Regions from separate parts of the Homo sapiens genome. Here region 2 is linked to region 1. The links come from fine-mapping of genetic effects on gene expression. Tissue or cell type: whole blood. Region 1 holds a variant in brackets; the other region holds the start of a gene. All regions are shown on one strand. Distances are from middle to middle.

Evidence for each region. PIP is the estimated chance that this variant, and not a neighbour inherited with it, causes the effect.
Region 2: it holds the start of DCPS, and the variant in region 1 is fine-mapped to the expression of DCPS in whole blood (INTERVAL, PIP above 0.99). The same link has a PIP of 0.9 or more in fibroblasts.

What each region holds. Positions count from the first base shown.
Region 1 is chr11:126,322,004-126,332,706 of GRCh38, forward strand. DCPS (decapping enzyme, scavenger) reads left to right here. Exons shown (of 6, transcript NM_014026.6): 3 at 9,402-9,547. Among named protein-coding and RNA genes, the nearest start is that of TIRAP-AS1, 23 kb to the left of the region's middle. RefSeq lists enhancers at 5,658-6,382, 6,383-7,105. The variant G/A (reference allele first, on the strand shown) is at 4,639.
Region 2 is chr11:126,298,757-126,306,607 of GRCh38, forward strand. DCPS (decapping enzyme, scavenger) reads left to right here and starts at 5,304. Exons shown (of 6, transcript NM_014026.6): 1 at 5,304-5,525; 2 at 7,814-7,851. The coding sequence starts at 5,325. It overlaps TIRAP-AS1 (TIRAP antisense RNA 1), which reads right to left and starts at 5,566. Exons shown (of 2, transcript NR_187388.1): 1 at 5,432-5,566. RefSeq lists a silencer at 5,262-5,391 and an enhancer at 7,050-7,339.

The DNA.
Region 1 (10,703 bases):
TGCAGAAAGAAAAGGCAGAGAAAATGAAGAAGAAAGGTCTTTAAAGAAATAATTCAAGACAGTTTCCCAGGTCTGAAGAACATGATTTTTAAGATTGAAAGGGCTCAGCAATTACCTAGCACAATGGATGAAGATAAAACCACTTTGAGATCCAACCACACCATCAGGGCATTGGAGACAGAAGAAAACAGGTCACAAAGAACTGGGCATCATAATGATCTCAGACTCCACAACAACAGCATTCAGATCTTCTTATTTTTATTTATTTTTATTTTTTTGAGACAGAGTCTCACTTTGTCGCCCAGGCTGGAGTGCATTGGTGCCATCTTGGCTCACTGCAACCTCCGTCTCCTGGGTTCAAGCAATTCTCCTGTCTCATTCTCTCTAGTAGCTGGGATTACAGGCGCACACCACCACGCCCGGCTCATTTTTGTATTTTTAGTAGAGATGGGGTTTCGCCATGTTGGCCAAGTTGGTCTTGAACTCCTGACCTCAGGTGATCTGCCTGCCTGAACCTCCGAAAGGGCTGGGATTACAGGTGTTAGCCACTATGCCCAGCCAGCATTCAGATTTTCTTTCTATCCTAAAATTCCTTTTTTTTTTTTTTTGAGACGAAGTCTCACTGCGTTGCCAGGCTGGAGTGCAGTGGCACAATCTCGGCTCACTGCAACCTCCGCCTCCGAGGTTCAAGTGATTCTCCTGCCTCAGCTTCCTGAGTAGCTGGGACTACAGGCGCGTGCCATCACGCCCAGCTAATTTTTTTTATTTTTAGTAGAGACGGGGTTTCACCATGTTGGCCAGTCTATCCTAAAATTCTTTAGCAAGAAGCAAAAAAATTTTTTTGAGACAATGTCTCACTTTGTTGCCAGGTTGGAGTCCAGTGGTACAGTCATAGCTCATGGCAGCCTCAAACTCCCGAGTTCAAGTGATTCTCCCACTTCACCTTCCCGAGTAGTGGCGACCAGAGGCAGGTACCACCACACGTGGCTAATTTATTATTTTTTGTAGAGATGGGGTCTTGCCATGTAGCGCAGGCTGGTCTCGAACTCCTGGGCTCAATAGATTTCCCCCCTGTTTCAGCCTCCCAAAGTGTTGGGATTACAGGCATGAGCCACCACACCCAGCCACCAAATTCCTAAGTGTGACAGTAGAATAAATATATTTTCAGATGTTTCAAGTCTCAAAATATATCTTGCTTGCACCATGTCTCTGGGCACAACTTGAGTTTGTGATTCACAGTTTACAAATTTGATAATTCTGTACTGTTACCAATAGTTACAAGAGACCTTTTTAATCCTCTTATCTGGGAAACAATTTTCAAAATACAATTATTGTTTTACCTTGAGCGGTAGAAAGTTCAGCTTTAGAAACATTGTGTTTATTTCCATTGTAATATTATATATGCAAGCTGATGCATGTATTTTTCAAAGCAGGTGTACTTTAATGGTTAAAAAAATACACATGATGCAGAAAGTTCTTTGAACAAGTAAGGCATTCAAACAATTCTAAATGTATTAAAGTTGCATTTCTTTCTTTTCTTTTTTTTTTTTGAGACAGGGTCTTGCTCAGTCACCCAGGCTGGAGCGCAGTGGCACGATCACAGCTCACTGCAGCCTTGACCTTCCAGGCTCAAGCGATCCTCCCACCACCTCAGCCACCAGAGTAGCTGGGACTACAGGCATGTGCTATCACACCCAGCTAATTTTTGTATTTTTTGTAGAGATAGGGTTTTGCCATGTTGCCCAGGCTGGTCTCGAACTCCTGGGCTCAGGTGATCCAAAGTGCTAGGATTATAGGCATGAGCCACCAAACCTGACCCTAAAGTTGTTTTTTTGTTTGTTTTTTGAGATGGTGTCTTGCTCTGTTGCCCAGACTAGAGTGCAGTGGCGCCATCTCGGCTCACCGCAACCTCTACCTCCCAGGTTCAAGCGATTCTTCCGCCTCAGCCTCCCGAGTATCTGGGATTACAGAAGCAAGCCACCATGCCTGGCTAATTTTTTTGTGTTTTTGTAGAGATGGGGTTTCACCATATTGGCCAGGCTGGTCTTGAACTTCTGACCTCAGGTGATCCGTCCGCCTTGGCCTCCCAAAGTACTGGGATTACAGGTGTGAGCCACTGCACCCAGCCCTAAAGTTGTATTTCTACAGTTATTGTATTCACATAACAGATTGCAGTAGCAAAATTTTTTTTTAGTATAATGTTTAAATTTTATTTTTAACTGACAAATAATTGTGCATAATGATTTCTGTTTTATGCTCTGGTGGAAATTTGAATACCTATCTGCTGATCTACTTGGTAAATTATTTCAGAGAATTGAAAATATTTTCACAGTTTTCCTAATGAAAATTCCAAGAATTGGATTTATAATAATAATAATGCCACACTAAAGTTTGAGAATTACTTCTGGGGGTGGCAACCGGAAGTTCTGGGAAGACACATTGTTCATGTGCCTGTTGAGTTTTTTTTTTTAGACAGGGTCTCACTCTGTCCCCTAGGCTGGAGTGCAGTGGCGAGATCTGCGCTCATCACAACCTCCGTTTCGCAGCTCAAGGGATCTCCCACTTCAGCCTTCTGAGTAGCTGGGACTACAGGCATGCACCACCATGCCTAGCTAATTTTTCTGCCTTTTTTTTTTTTTTTTTTTTTTTTTTGGTAAAGACGGGATCTCACTATGTTGCTCAGGCTAGTCACAAATCCATGGTCTCAAGCAATCTCCCTGCCTTGGCCTCCCAAATTGCTGGGACTATAGGCATGAGCCACTGTGCCTGGCTTGCCTGATGAGTTTAACACATAAGAGGAGATTTATGTAAACAGGGAAGTGGATTTGGGGATGAATTAGTGACATGTTTATAGAAAATTAAACAAGTGGCCAGAATTTGGGTGGAGATGCCTTCTCTGGCTGGGCACGGTGGCTCACACCTATATCCCAGAATTTTGGGAGGCCGAAGCGGGTGGATCACCTGAGGTCAGGAGTTCGAGACCAGCCTGACTAACATGGTGAAACCCTATCTCTACTAAAAATACAAAAATTAGCGGGGCATGGTGGTGGGCACCTGTAATCCCAGCTACTCACTCGGGTTGCTGAGGCACGAGAATCGCTTGAACCCAGGAGGTGGAGGTTGCAGTGAGCCAAGATCGTGCCATTGCACTCCAGCCTGGGAGACACAGTGAGACTCAGTTTCGAAAAAAGAAAAAAAATTAAACAGTAAAAATGTAATGACTTATTCCATACACCAAAAATTATGCTGAAGAGAAGAAAATAATCACAGTAACTATGGCAGTGAACAGCATTTACATCATCATCATAGCATCAGTGTTGAATACTGATTTATCAAAAATTGTGGTAAAGTTGTACTGTGAGGTTGAGGGTTAGGAAGTATCTGTGTATATGTGTGTGTTTGTGCATGTGTGTGCATTTGGTGAAGGGATGGTAAAAAGAGATAAATTCTCATCTTCCTTAATGAGAAGTCAGTAAGTAATAGTAGAAGTTAAAAGTCAAGTAGGAACAAGATATAAAAGTATAATTTAGAATTCTGGAAGTATATAACCAAAGAGGTGGCCAGAAGTGTTGAAAGTGGTGCCTTTGAAGGAGCTGGAAATTGGGAGCAGGGAGGAGCAGAAAAGTGTTTTTGAAAACAAGCTTCATTTGACTCTTTGACATATATGCAAGTACAATTTGAATTAAAAAGACAAACACAGTGTTAAAAAGCATGACAGGGGAACTCTGTAAGGAGTGTTGGAGGTGCTCTTAATATATTGTGAAGATTTTCCAGGGATAGATTTTTGAGGGTTTATGGTTATCCCAGGCTGTGTTTGGAGAATGCCAGCAGGAAGGCCAGGCGCGGTGGCTCACACCTGTAATCCCAGCACTTTGGGAGGCTGAGGTGGGCGGATTACGAGATCAGGAAATCGAGGCCATCCTGGCCAACTTGGTGAAACCCTGTCTCTACTAAAAATACAAGTATTAGCCAGGCGTGGTGGCGTGGGCCTGTAATCCTAGCTACTGGGGACGCTGAGGCAGGAGAATCGCTGAAACCCAGGAGGCGGAGGTTGCAGTGAGCCAAGATTGCACCACTGCACTCCAGCCTGGTGACAGAGCAAGATTCCATCTCAAAAAATACATATAAATAAATAAATAATGAGAATCCCAGCAGGAGGGTGGGACTGGGGAGTTGGTCAGTTCTCTGGCTACCAGGAAGAGCTCTGGGCAGGGGTGTTGCCAGGTATCACTCATCCTGAGCAGGCGGTGCCCTCAGTCCACTTGCCAGACAGCGTATGGCAGGGAGAGCCTGGCAAGGCCACCGGGCCTCTTCTGCTGACCTGCCGTGGGCAGATGGGGCTGCCAGTGTGGGTCCCGGCCCTGAGCACCACACGGGGCTGTGGGTCCTTGGGGGCCACTCCAGGCCCTGGGCCTCAGTTTCCTCATATGTAAAATGCAATCATAATAATACCCGTTCATGTTGGTCATAAGGAGTAAATGAGTTCATTTTTGCGTGTCAGGCTTAGAATAGTGTTATAGGGCTGAGGTTCCGAAAGGTATTGACACCTTAAAAAAAATTTTCCTACTAAAAAAAATTCCAATCCTGCAGAAAAGTTGTAAGAATAGTACAAAGAACTCCCTTATAAAAGGACTTCAC[G/A]GCCGGGCGCAGTGGCTCACGCCTGTAATCCCAGCACTTTGGGAGGCCGAGGCATGTGGATCACGAAGTCAGGAGATCGAGACCATCCTGGCTAACACGGTGAAACCCTGTCTCTACTAAAAATACAAAAAATTAGCCAGGCGTGGTGGCAGGCGCCTGTAGTCCCAGCTACTCAGGAGGCTGAGGCAGGAGAATGGCGTGAGCCCGGGAGGCGGAGCTTGCAGTGAGCCGAGATCACGCCACTGCACTCCAGCCTGGGCGACAGAGCGAGACTCTGTCTCAAAAAAAAAAAACAAAAAACAAAATAAAAGGACTTCACCTGTTAACATTTGCCACATTGGCTTTTTCTGTCTCCACATATACGTAGAATAATGATAACGATGGATATAAAAAAGGGTAAAATTATTAATTTCAGGAGATTTCCCATTCGTATGAGACTTCTGTGACATACAGTCCATAGTTAAGTTGTGCCAGTTGCTTCAGTGCAGGGCGCCCCTCCCCGGATCCCAACCCCGGATCTAATCCAATCCCTTTAGTCCCGTCTCTTTAGTCTCCCTTCATCTGGAGCAATTCCTCAGCCTTCTTTGTCCTTCCTAACTTTGACATTTTTGTAGTGTTATAAAGCCACTAGTTTTGTTGAATGCCCCTGGATTTTGGTTTGCTGATATTTCCTCATGACTGGACTCAGGTTATGCGTTTTTGGCCAGAATTCCACATGATCAGGAGGCACATGATGTCGGCGTGCCCAGCAGGGGTGACGGTGACGCCCATGGCCTGGCCGAGGTGGTAGCCTTTTGCTGCTGTAAAGCGACTCGTGTTCCCTTTGTAATTAATAAGTAATCTATGGGAGATATTTTTGAGACTGTGCCTGTGTATCGTGTTTCCCAACGTGTTTTCACCTGATGGTTTGATTGTTTATTGAGCATTGACTCCTGACCAAACTCCTCCTGAAGTTCAGCTGCAGGTCAACATCTTGACGGGCATTGAGGTAAACACCAGCGTTCATTGTTTTTTGGCTGCCATCGTAAACCTTAGCATTAGGAAATATATTGATTTGTATCAGAGAGGTTTTATTTCATCTGGGACAAAAATGCTCTTCCTGGGTTTAAGTCGAAAAGGCCAGATTCATTGATTCATTTGTTCACTAAGTATTTACTGAGTGCTTACTGTATGCCAGGCACTATTCCAGGTGCTGGGGACAAATTGTTTTCTTCCGGAAGCTGCATAGTAGTTGGGGAGTCAGACAGTCCATCCACCTGCTGCTGTGAGGGAGTGAGAAGTGAAGAGGAAGCAAGCTGGTGGAGGAGACAGAGGACCCCGAGGTTAGGGCTGCTGTTTTACCAGAGCTGACCGAGCCTGAGGAGCTGGCCTCAGAGCAGAGGCCTGGATGAAGCGAGGAGCAGCGTGGCTCGTTGGGTAGGAGGGTCAGCTCGGCCGTGGGAGCGGCCAGGGCACGGCCTGGAGAGGAGCCCATGGCTGACGCGAGTTAGTGGGTCAGTGGGGAGCCGGCGCGGCTGGAGCAGAGGCCCTAAGCGGGAGAGAGGCAGTGCATGAAGGTGGAAAGAGGGCCAGGGCGAGGTGACCAACAGCCTCGTAGTCCACGGCAGGAAGCGCGGGAGCTGTGGAGCAGGGGACAGTTTGAGGGTGGCAGCTCCCACCTCAGTGTGGCCCTGACTGAGGCTTTCGGTGGAGACCTGAGGGAAGCCAGGCCCCTTAGGAGTGAGTGCTCTAGGGGGACGTGGGGAGCTCTGAGAGTCCTGCAGTCAGGTTCCCATCCCTGCAGGTGCACCTCAGGAAAGGCAGGAGGATGGCAGGAAGTGAGCAGTTGGAAAATAAGCACCTGTGGATGCTCTTGCTGCTGAGGGGAGGCGGGAGGGGCTGGCTGGGTGAGACGCCAGTTTCCCTGCACCCTGGGTGGCTGGGGCAGGTCTCCCACAGGCCTCGGCAGACCAGGGCATGCTCACAGGCCGGGTGGCTTTCTGATCTGGAGCAGCCAGGAGCCCCAGGCTGGGAGCCCGGCTGGGTGACCCTGCCCGCAGAACCCGGCTGCTCTCCAGCGCCCGCTCTGCCTCTGTGCCCTGCCCATCTCTCCCCCACTCTCAGGGAGCTCCACTGCCCAACCCAGGCAACGGAGGCAACAGCGGAGAGAATCCAAGCTAGCCTGGGGGGAGCGCTTTTCTCCATGTGAGGCACTTCCTGAATCTTTCCTTCTACTGACTCGTTTAATTCTCCCAACAGCCCTGGAAGGTAGGTGCTGTTATTGTTACCCCAGATTGTAGAAGTCAGGAGACTGAAGCCACAGACAGTGTCAGTCACTAGCCTGAGGTTACGCCACTAATAAGTGCAGAGCCAGGACTTGCACCCAGGCTGACTGGCTCCAAAATCTCTGTTCTCATCCACCAAGCTCCACTGCAGATGTATGGATTTCCCTCAGGTCCACTGCAAGGGCCAAGGTGGTGCCGTTCAGTCTACTTCAAGCAGTCTCCCGCCTCTTGAGATCTTGGTGTGCCTGACCTCTGACCTCTGGCCCATGACCTATGACGCTGAGCTGTTAGAGAACAGAGTGAGAAGCAAGAAAGAGTCTTTTGCTGCTCCTCAGAGAGTTGTGAGGAGGCCTTCATGCCCCTTTTTCAGGGTCAGATCCGGGGATTCCCAGGATTGGGTGACATTTATTTAGCAACTCGTGATCCAGCTGACACGTTTTATTGAATGTAAACAACTCTGTGAGGCAGATTTGATGACCACCCTTTAATAGGTGAGGAAGCCAAGGCTCTAAGACGTTAAGCCCCATGCCCAAGGGTACACAGCCAGTATGGAGAGTCATGTGGCCAGCCTGGGGCCAGTGGCCATGTCTTCCCACTGTGCTGCTGTGCCACCCAGAGCTGAGGGCCTGGGATGTTTGATGGGACAGAAGCCACGTGCCTGGTATGTCATCTCTGTGCATCCCCACTGGGACTTGGAAGTAGAAATTGGAAGTAGCCTGTGGTGTTGCAGGAGCACTGGCTTTAGGGTGAGATGGCCTCAGTTCCAGGTTCGCCTCTGCCACGTTTCACGGTGTGATACTGGATGACTCTTTTGAGTCCCAGCCCACCCTCTTCACTGACGTATGAAAGCGGGGTTAAAACCACCTATGACCTCAGACCAAATATGAAAGTATAGGTTGATAGTTCTTAGCCGGGTTTTGCGGTGTGTGAGTGAGTATGAGGACTTCGTGGTGGTGAAATGTGCCCGCTGGGTTTTCAGCTCTCTCGGGTTTCCCTGGGAGAGCCTATCCGAACCCAGATTAAGAAAGTCAGAGGGAACCATGGGTCTTTTGAGAAAGATCCAAGCTGATTTGGAAATACCCCTAAGATCTATGTTAAAACACAATGTATACATGTTAGAGTAATGATGACAATTGTACCAGATGTTTTTAAAAATAAAGGAAAGGACTTAACCAAAACCAGGTGGTTTTGGACCAGGAAGCTAGCCTAGAGTCTGTTTAGGAAAACTGCAAGACATCCTTCTAGTTTAAAACTGTGCTTCTCACCTGGGGACACTTTTTCCTTTCAGGGGACACATTGGCAATGTCTGGAGACATTTTGGGTTGTCACAACTTGGGGAGGGTGCTACTAACATCCCAACAGAGGCCACAGGGATGCAGCTGAACATCCTTCAATGCACAGGACAGCCCCTGCAACAGAATTATCCAGGCCAAAATGTCAGTGGTGCTGAGATTGAGAAACCCTGGATTAAACATCACAGCACTTATGTGGTGTTTACTGTGTGCCAGACATTGTTTTAAGAACTTCACAGGTAATTGACTTGTTTAATCCTCCCAGCCTTATGACACAGGAGCTTTTACTATCCTCATTTGGCAGATGAAGAAGTAGGGGCACCAAGAGGTTAAACAGCTGAACCGTGCTCCCGGGTGGGGCCAAGGTCCCATTCAGAATAAGGAGCAGGCAGAGCCAGGACTTGAACTCAGTCTGGCTGCAGAGTCTGTGCCTGGAACCACTGCGCTCTGCTGCACTGCCCATCATTAAGGGGACTACTGGGCTTTAAACCATATATATATATATATATATATATATATATATTTTTTTTTTTTTTTTTTTTTTTTTTTTTTTTTTGAGATAGAGTTTCACTCTTGTTGCCCAGGCAGGAGTGCAATGGTGCAATCTGGGCTCACTGCAACCTCTGCCTCCCAGGTTCAAGTGGTTCTCCCGCCTCAGCCTCCTGAGTAGCTGGGATTACAGGCATGCGCCACCACGCCCGGTTAATTTTGTATCTTTAGTAGAGATGGGGTTTCTCCACGTTGGTCAGGCTGGTCTCGAACTCCTGACCTCAGGTGATCCGCCTGCCTCGGCCTCCCAAAGTGCTGGGATTACAGGCGTCAGCCACTGCGCCCGGCCTTTAAGCCATATTTTCAGCTTTGGGTCCAGAAAGCCACATACCTAGAAATTTGGTATGTGAGAAGAGTTAGAGACCTCTCATTCCTGTGCCTGGAAGATGGAGCAGGAAGGGCTGGGGTTTGCCTGATGAGGGGCCCAGTGACCCACAGGTAAGAACCTTGTGTTTTCCAGATTCTGAGTGTGGCTCAGCTCGTGAATGCAGTGGCACAAGGCACTCTGTGGGAGTGGATCTTGGGTGCATGATCCTCTTGGATTTTGGCTTCCCTCAGGGAATCAAAGCCAGGGTGGGAGTTCTCTCCTCACCGTGGTGCCTGTGGCATAGAGAGTGGGCATTGCTTCCCTGTCACGGGCTGTGCTGTATCATTGCAGATGTAAAGACGACCGTGGTTTACCCTGCCACAGAGAAACACCTGCAGAAGTACCTGCGCCAGGACCTCCGCCTGATCCGAGAGACGGGAGATGACTACAGGAATATTACTTTACCCCACCTGGAGTCCCAGAGCCTCAGCATCCAGGTGACTGGCTGCATGTCTCAGACGCAGAGCACTGCTCCCGTGGCTGGTGCCTCCTCTTACGAGTGTCTATTGGGGTCATATTAGGGGCCAGGCGCTGTGCTGGGCGAGGGGATGGGGGTACAGTAGAGAGCATGGCGGACAGAATCCCCACCTCGTGCAGCTTACATCCCATGCACAGTCACACGGTGTGTGACCATACACAGATATCTCAGGATCTATGTGCTCTGTGAGATAATGAGGGCTGCAGAGAGAAATAGACAGGATAAGTGGGACCAGAAGGCCTGGGGCGGGCAATTGCCATTTTATATCGCATGGCGAGAGAAGGCTTTGGGGGTGGGGGAACTGATGCTGGTCTTGGTCCCACCTGATGTGCTTGGGCATGCCATGGAGGCTCTCTGGGGACCTCAAAGCAATCCAGTCCTTTGGAAGAATGTGTGTCTGCTCTGCAGTAGCCTTGATCCAGCCTCGGGATGACTGTGCCATTGCTTTGGGTCCATGAATGGGTAAAAGGCTGATGTTGAGTGAGTCCCACCCTGTCCAGACTCTTATTCCTGGTTTCACCTGCGGCAAACCGGCCTGCAGGATCTCAGTCTCAGAGGAAAAACTCTTCCCTCACCGACTCCCCCTTGCATTCGTCCAAAAGAAGGCAGGACCCCATTGGCCCCGGGGATTTGGTGCAGGGACTCCATTCACAAGCTGGCAGTCGTCTGGCCAGGCCAGATGCAAGGCCATTTAGCTCCAAGATCCTGACTCCTCCCTGGGCCTAGGCCCAGCGCCAACTGGAGCCTCTGCCTGGAACTGGCCCCATGTGAGTACTCAGAGTTAAATATGACTGATGCTTATTGATGAGTCAGTTTCTTGCCCACTCACTGACTCTGACACTGTGCCTTGTCTTTATCACTCACCCTTGTTCTCTTCGAGCATTTCTCACTTTTCTCCCCAAGATTCAGGTCACTGTGGTGGAGGGTGTTGTGATGTGAGGAACTCACAGCCACTCCTCCCTGGCCCAGAAGAAGGGAGGGTACGCTGTGTGTGTGGGCACTGCAAGGTGAATTGTACTTGACAGGAGTAAGGAAAGGGAGGCTGACAGGGCCTGCAGGAATGAAGTTTCCTTGGGAGACCTGTGTGCCGCCAGCCCCCTTCCCCAGCCTGGTTC
Region 2 (7,851 bases), 25 kb before region 1:
AAGAGTTATAGATCTAATTAGATTTTCCATTTCTCCTGGAGTCAATTTGGTACAAACAGTCAATAAAGACTACAAGACCAGTTTAAGTAGATTTTTCAGTTTGAGTGTCCTGGATCATGTACACAATCATGAATGTGAAGTCTGTCTGCATGAAGAATCATCTGTGGTTATAAATTCTTAGGAGGTTTTTTCCTTCTTCCCTCTGGAACAACGGTTGAAGCAGGCAAGTTTCCTAATCACCTTCTCTCCTTTAGTAGGGCAGCATTTTTCTTTTTTATAAATAGTTGGCCTGGCCAGGCATGGTGGCTCACGCCTATAATCCTAGCACTTTGGGAGGCCAAGGCGAGCAGATCACCCAAGGTCAGGAGTTCGAGACCAGCCTGACCAACGTGGCGAAACTCCGTCTCTACTAAAAATACAAAAAAATTAGCTATGCGTGGTGGTGGGTGCCTGTAATCCCAGCTACTCAGGAGGCTGATGCATGAGAATCGCTTGAATCCAGGCAGCGGAGGTTGCAGTGAGCTGAGATCGCGCCACTGTACTCCAGCCTGGGCGACAGAGTGAGACTCCGTATCCAAAAAAAAAAAAAAAAAAAAAAAATTGTTGGCCCCTTCATTGAGCTAGTGGACCTTCAGGGTTCTTAGCTCTATAGAAAGTTCTGTATCTTAATTCCTCTTTACATAAGCTCAGGTCTTGTCTCTTGTCCCTTGAATCGGGTCCTAGACGTCTAGAGATCAGCAATGGCCCTTAAAATAGCTTCCACCTTAAAAATCCCCTTACCACTCTATAGATTCAAACTCCCACATCATTTTTGGTTCCTGCAAATTTTACTTTTTTGAGAGCTCAGCAACGTAACTAAAAGAATGTTTTAAATTTTACATCCAGAATGTTCGGGTATTTTGTAGCTGACTTGTTTTCAGTTTAGTCTGTTATAATCCCTGAAATGGAACTGGGAAGTATCCAATCCTTCTTTAGACTAAAAAAGAAAAGATTTGGGAGGTTTTTTTTTTTTTTTTTTTTTGAGACAGAGTCTCGCTCTGTCACTCAGGCTGGAGCACAGTGGTGCAATCTTGGCTCATTACAACCTCCGCCTCCAGGTTCAAGCCATTCTCCTGCCTCAGCCTCCCGAGTAGCTGGAATTATAGGTGCCTGCTGCCACACTCAGCTAATTTTTGTATTTTTAATAGAGATGGGGTTTCGCCATGTTAGCCAGGCTAGTCTCAAACTCCTGACCTCAAGTGATCCACCCGCCTTGGCCTCCCAAAGTGCTGGGATTACAGGCGTGAGCCACCGCACCTTGCGTGGGAGAAATTTTAAGATTTCTGAAAAACAATTGAACAGGGCTTTATAATAAATGAGTAAGCTAATACAGCATTGTCTAGTAGAACTTCCTTTGATAATGAAAATGTTCTCCATCTGTGCTCATACGATAGCCACAAGTGGATATCAAGCACTTGCAAAGTGGCTAGTGTAACTGAGGAAATGAATTTTAACTACTACCATAAAGATTCCTTTCACACTGAGGTCTGGTATTTAATAGAACCTCTGGTAGCTGAGGCTTCCTATGAGCTCATCCTTTCCTTGGCATTCTTTTTTTTTAAGAGACAAAGCCTCGCTCTCTTGCCCAGGCTGGAGGGCAGTGGTGTGATTATAGCTCACTGCAGCCTCAAACTTCTGGGCTCAAGTGGTCCTCCCACCTCAGCCTCCTAAGTAGCTGGGACTACAGGTATGAGCCACCACGTGGGGCATGAGCCAGGCCTTTTTGAAGAGTAGAATTCTGGTTTTATATTTTAATCAAAATTATACCCATATTGATTAATTTTGCCGCTAATGAATACATTTCTCTACTATTTCATTTCAAATGTTTCTATTTTGCTCATTATATTTTAGCTACACAGGTCATTCCTTTTGAGACAGAGTCTTGCTCTGTCACCCAGGTTGAAGTGCAGTGGCGCGACCTTGGCTCACTGCAACCTGCACCTCCTGAGTTCAAGTGATTCTCCTGCCTCAGCCTCCCAGGTAGCTGGGATTACAGGCGCACACCACCACACCCAGCTAATTTTTGTATTTTTAGTACAGACTATGTTTCACCATGTTGGCCAGGCTGGTCTCGAGCTCCTGATCTGAAGTGATCCGCCCACCTCAGCCTCCCAAAGTGCTGGGATTACAGGTGTAAGCCACCATGCCCCACGGTCATTCCTATTTTTTAAAAATGTCAAGCACATTACTGCTCTAGGGCCTTTGACAGCTAATATTTACTGTGCCTGGGCTCTTCATATGGCTGATATGGCTGGTTCCTTCTCATCATTCAAGTCTCAGCTCAAATGTCACCTTTTGAGAGGCTGTCCATGATCATCTTATCTAAAGAGCTTGGCCGAGCATGGTGGCTCATGCCTGTAATCCCAACACTTTGGGAGATGGGCAGGTCACCTGAGGTCAGGAGTTTGAGACCAGCCTGGCCAACATGGCAAAACCCCATCTCTACTAAAAATACAAAAATTGGCCAGGTGTGCTAGTGTACGCCTGTAATCCCAGCTACTTAGAAGGCTGAGGCAGAAGAGTCGCTTGAACCTGGGAGGTGAAGGTTGCAGTGAGCCAAGATTGCACCACTGTACTCCAGCCTGGGTGACAGAGTGAGACTCTGTCTCAAAGAAAGAAAAAAAAGGGCGGGGGGGGGGGGCTCCTATCCCCAGGCTCTTTCACACTGTCCAGTTTTGTCCTATTAACAGTACTTGGCCGGGCACGGTGGCTCACGCCTGTAATCCCAGCACTTTGGGAGGCTGAGGCGGGCAGATCACGAGGTCAGGAAATTGAGACCATCCTGGCTAACACGGTGAAACCCCGTCTCTACTAAAAATACAAAAAATTAGCCAGGCGTGGTGGTAGGCCCCTGTAGTCCCAGCTACTTGGGAGGCTGAGGCAGGAGAATGGCGTGAACCTGGGAGGTGGAGCTTGCAGTGAGCCGAGATCGCACCACTGCACTCCAGCCTGGGCGACAGAGGGAGACTCCGTCTCAAAAAAAAACAAAAAACAAAAAACAAAAAACAGTTCTTAATCATTATCTTGTTTACCTCATGTACCCCATTTGAATATACATTTTATGAAAGAAGAGGCCTCGTTGTCTTGCTTAGAACTAATAGCCGCTGGCACATGGAAAATGGAGACCTGGAAAGGTTAAGAGACTTTTCCAAAGTTGCACAGCTAGTCAGTGTTGGGGCCCGACTTCATGGCTCTCAATTATGGGCTCTTTTTGTTAAAACATAGCTACTTTGGCAGGGTGCGGTGGCTCACGCCTGTAATGCCAGCTCTTTGGGAGGCCCAGGCGGGCGGATCACGAGGTCAGGAGTTCGAGACCAGCCTGGCCAACATGGTGAAACCCTGACTCTACTAAAAATACAAAAAATTAGCCGGGAGTGGTAGCAGCCGCCTGTAATACCAGCTACTCAGGAAGTTGAGGCAGGAGAATCGCTTGAACCTGGAGGCAGAGGTTGCAGTGAGCCGAGATCGCGCCATTGCACTCCAGCCTGGGGGACAGATCCTAAGTCTCTCCTAATAATGCTTTCTGCATCACACACACACACACACACACACACAAAGTAGTCCTTTTTTTTTTTTTTTTTTTTTGAGATGGAGTCTCGCTCTGTCACCCAGGCTGGAGTGCAGTGGCGCGATCTCAGCTAACTGCAAGCTCCGCCTCCCGGGTTCACGCCATTCTCCTGCCTCAGCCTCCCAAGTAGCTGGGACTACAGGCGCCCGCCACCACGCCTGGCTAATTTTTTTGTATCTTTAGTAGAGACGGAGTTTCACCACGTTAGCCAGGATGGTCTCGATCTCCTGACCTCGTGATCCGCCCACCTCGGCCTCCCAAAGTGCTGGGATTACAGGCATGAGCCACCGCGCCTGGCCTAAAGTAGTCTTTTATCCAACTCCTAATCTATATTTCTGGTAGAAGTAATCCAAAAATCAAACTAACACATGGTACACTTTGTTATTGACCAAAAACTGACTGTAAATTGCATCTTGTTGCTAACGTTGAGAATGGCAAAAACTGTCCCACACCCATGAGATCTGTCTGAAAACCTAAACTCAAATCACTGGCAAAATAAATGTGTGGCTGACTGAAGCGATGTAAGTACCAACTCTTTTTTTTTTTCTTTGAGACGTAGTCTCGCTCTGTCGCCAGGGTGGAGTGCAGTGGTGCGATCTCGGCTCACTACAATACTCCGCCCGCGTTCAAGCGATTTTCCTGCCTCAGCCTCCCGAGTAGCTGGGACTACAGGCGCGGGCCACCACGCCCGGGTAATTTTTGTATTTTTAGTAGAGACGGGGTTTCACCATGTTGGCCAGGATGGTCTCGGTATCTTAACCTCGTGATCCGTCCACCTCGACCTCTCGAAGTGCTGGAATTACAGGCGTGAGCCACCGCGCCTGTCCGTAAGTACCAACTCTTCACAAAATTTAGATCTGTTAAATAACACCAGTGAAAAACGGGCTAACCAGAAACAATGGTCACCAAAGAAACCCTCAACAGCAGAAGTTACAAGTAATAATTTTATATGGCAAAAAAAAAAAAAAAAAAAAAAAAAAAGAGAAACGAAACCCTGGGAGACGAATCATACTGCAAATCATATCCCTGGGTAGCAGGGCAGAAATACAGGTAAACAAAATAGAGAGGAGGGGGATGCCTCTAGCCCGGAAATAAGTGGGTGGTGGAGATGGTTCTTCTGGCCATATTCGTTTACCTTTTTTGTCAGCAGAAAAGTACTGAGTCTACAAAGTAAAAAACTGACCACGATGAAAATTTCTGCAAAGTAATTAAAATGGGAGAAAAATGGAAATGGCTTAAATACTCGGTATAAAAAATCGACCAAGGAATCAAATGGGCTCACGGATTTGCGTCAGAAACGTTGCTTCCCCGATAATTGGTCAACGTCGGTGTAACTATGATTAAAATGTCAGTATTCAAACAAGGGCTCCAACACTACCGTGGCCCAAGGGCGTCTTCGGCTCCCACCCCGGGGCGTGGGCCTGGGGGTCCCTCTTCACTGCGCAGCCACCTCTAGCCCGCCGCTTTCGGGACTCTCAGCCTTCTTTTCCCTTCCCTGAGGGCCGGCCGGCACCACAACGGGGCCAAAGGCAGTAACTCGGTTGAAAGGCGCGCCCTGGGACAGGTCAGCGGGCTCCGCCATGCGCGGCACGCATCCCGCAGGAGCGGGTGCCAGAGCAGGGTAGGCCGGGAGTTAGCAGCCCAGCCAGGCCGCTGGACTCGGGCTAGGGGCGGGGCCAGCGCAGGGGGCGCAGGCGCACACCGCCTCCGCGGCAGCATGGCGGACGCAGCTCCTCAACTAGGCAAGAGGAAGCGCGAATTGGACGTGGAGGAGGCCCACGCCGCCAGCACAGAGGAAAAGGAGGCAGGAGTTGGAAATGGTACCTGTGCTCCTGTCCGCTTACCGTTCTCCGGCTTCAGACTGCAGAAGGTGCTGAGGGAGTCTGCGCGGGACAAAATCATTTTCCTACACGGGAAGGTACCAGGAGGCAACCCTGAGGTGGGATGCGGGAAGCAGTGAACCAATCATCGCCTCGGAGGCAGATTTTTTTTTTTCGGATCTCGGCTGGAAAATACCAATCATTATCACTCCGGGGAGGCGGGAGTGCGCCACTAGAATGCATAGAGGGGCGGTGAAAGGCGGCAAGATTGCCTTTGAAATTAAGGCAATGAACACATCTAGCTCTAATTTTTCTAATGTCTCCACTAGAAATATCTACTGGGAGAGTGCATTGCAGATTAAAGATCACATGTTACATTCCCCAAGCCATTCATCATCCATTTATGTATACAGGGACTAGGAACCCAGTCAATGTTAGATGTCTCGCTCATCCCTGTCCGTGGAAACGACATGAGACTGTAGGAGATGTGATCTCTGCCTTACGCGACTTCAGCCGTAACAGGAGAACAATATATTATAATTGTTAATTCAGTTCTACGCACGCACTTTCATGCATGCCAGACACTAAACTAGGTACTGGGGATGTGGAGACGAAAGTTACCATCCCTGATCTTCAGGACTACGGAATATTTCTGGCGAGACAGATACACACAGCTTGCTCCAATACCAACGTGCTCAGCAATCTGGCAGGGGCTGAGGAGAGATGGAGACCATTCCAGGAACTAGTGAGGAGGCCTAGCCAGAGCAGATATGGGGGTTCCCCAGAAACTAGTGAGGAGGCCTAGCCAGGGCAGATAAGGGGGTTCCCTAGAACTACTAGCAGGAACTCTCACCTTTGGGAGGATCAGGGAACCTTGGCCTAGGCTTCCATGCCTCTGTGTGTATCTGGTTTTTAAATTTTTATTTATTTATTTATTTATTTTTGAGACGGAGTCTCTCCTCTCTGTCACCCAGGCTAGAGTGCAGTGATGTGATCTCGGCTCACTGCAACCTCTGCCTCCCGAGTTCAAGCTATTCTACCTGCCTCAGCCTGCCCAATAGCTGGGATTACAGGCCCCCGCCACCATGCCCAGCTAATTTTTGTATTTTTAGTAGAGATGGGGGTTTCACCATGTTGGCCAGGCTGGTCTCGAACTCCTGACCTCAGGTGATCCGCCTGCCTCTGCCTCCCAAAGTGCTGGGATTACAGGCGTGAGCCACCGCACCCGCCTTTTTTTTTTTTTTTTTTTTTTTTGAGATGGAGTTTCACTCTTCTTGTCCAGGCTGGAGTGCAATGGCACTATCTTGGCTCACTGCAACCTCCACTTTCTGGATTCAAGTGATTCTCCTGCCTCAGCCTCCCAAGTAGCTGGGATTACAGGCATCTGCCACCATGCCCAGCTAATTTTCGTATTTTTAGTAGAGACAGGGTTTCACCATGTTGGCCAGGCTGGTCTTGAACTCCTGACCTCAGGTGATCCACCCACCTCTGCCTCCCAAAGTGCTGGGATTATAGGCATGAGCGACTGCGCTGGGCCTTGTTTTTTGTTGTTTTTTGTTTGTTTGTTTGTTTGTTTTTGTTTCTTGTTTTCTGTTTTTTTGTATGCGATTCTGTCTGGTTCTCTCAGCCCAGCTGTCTTCAGTGTGCAGCACCTGTTGAAGGTGTTAGTCATGAGAGCCTTCGAGCTAGGAGTCACTTGGGAGACCTAGGTTCTGGTTTCTGTTTCAATGCTGACTGTTCATGTGACCTTGGGCAAGTCACTCAAGGTCTGTTTTTCATCTTCTGAAATGGGGAGAACTTGACAGAGGTCTTGTAAGCCTAAAATGGAAGACAACTGAGAAGCCTTGTATTCTGGGGAAGAAAGGTGTGAGAACTGCCACAAGGATTTGGGTGGAGATGCCTTCTCTGGCTGGGCATGGTGGCTCACACCTGTAATCCCAGCACTTTGGGAGGCTGAGGCAGGCATATCATTTGAGATCGGGAGTTCAAGACCAGCCTGGCCAACATGGTGAAACCCCATCTCTACTAAAAATACAAAAATTAGCCAGATGTGGTGGCATGCGCCTGTAATCCCAGCTACTCAGGAGGCTGTGGCGGGAGAATTGTTTGAGCCCAGGAGGTGGAGGTTGCAGTGAGCCAAGATCGCGCCATTGCACTCCAATCCGGGCAACAGAGCAACACTCCATCTCAAAAAAAAAAAGATGCCTTCTCTGAGAAAAGAAATGTGAAATGTGAGTGCCATTGGCTAGACTTCCCCAGAGGGAAGACTTCAGGGAAGGAAATCCCAAGTATTGGGAATTCAAAGGCCCTGGGAGCTTCTGTCTTGCTCTCCAGAGTCTCATCGTGGTTCTGCCCTTGAGCCCACTGATGATGCCTCTGCCCACAGGTGAATGAGGCCTCTGGGGATGGGGATGGAGAGGATGC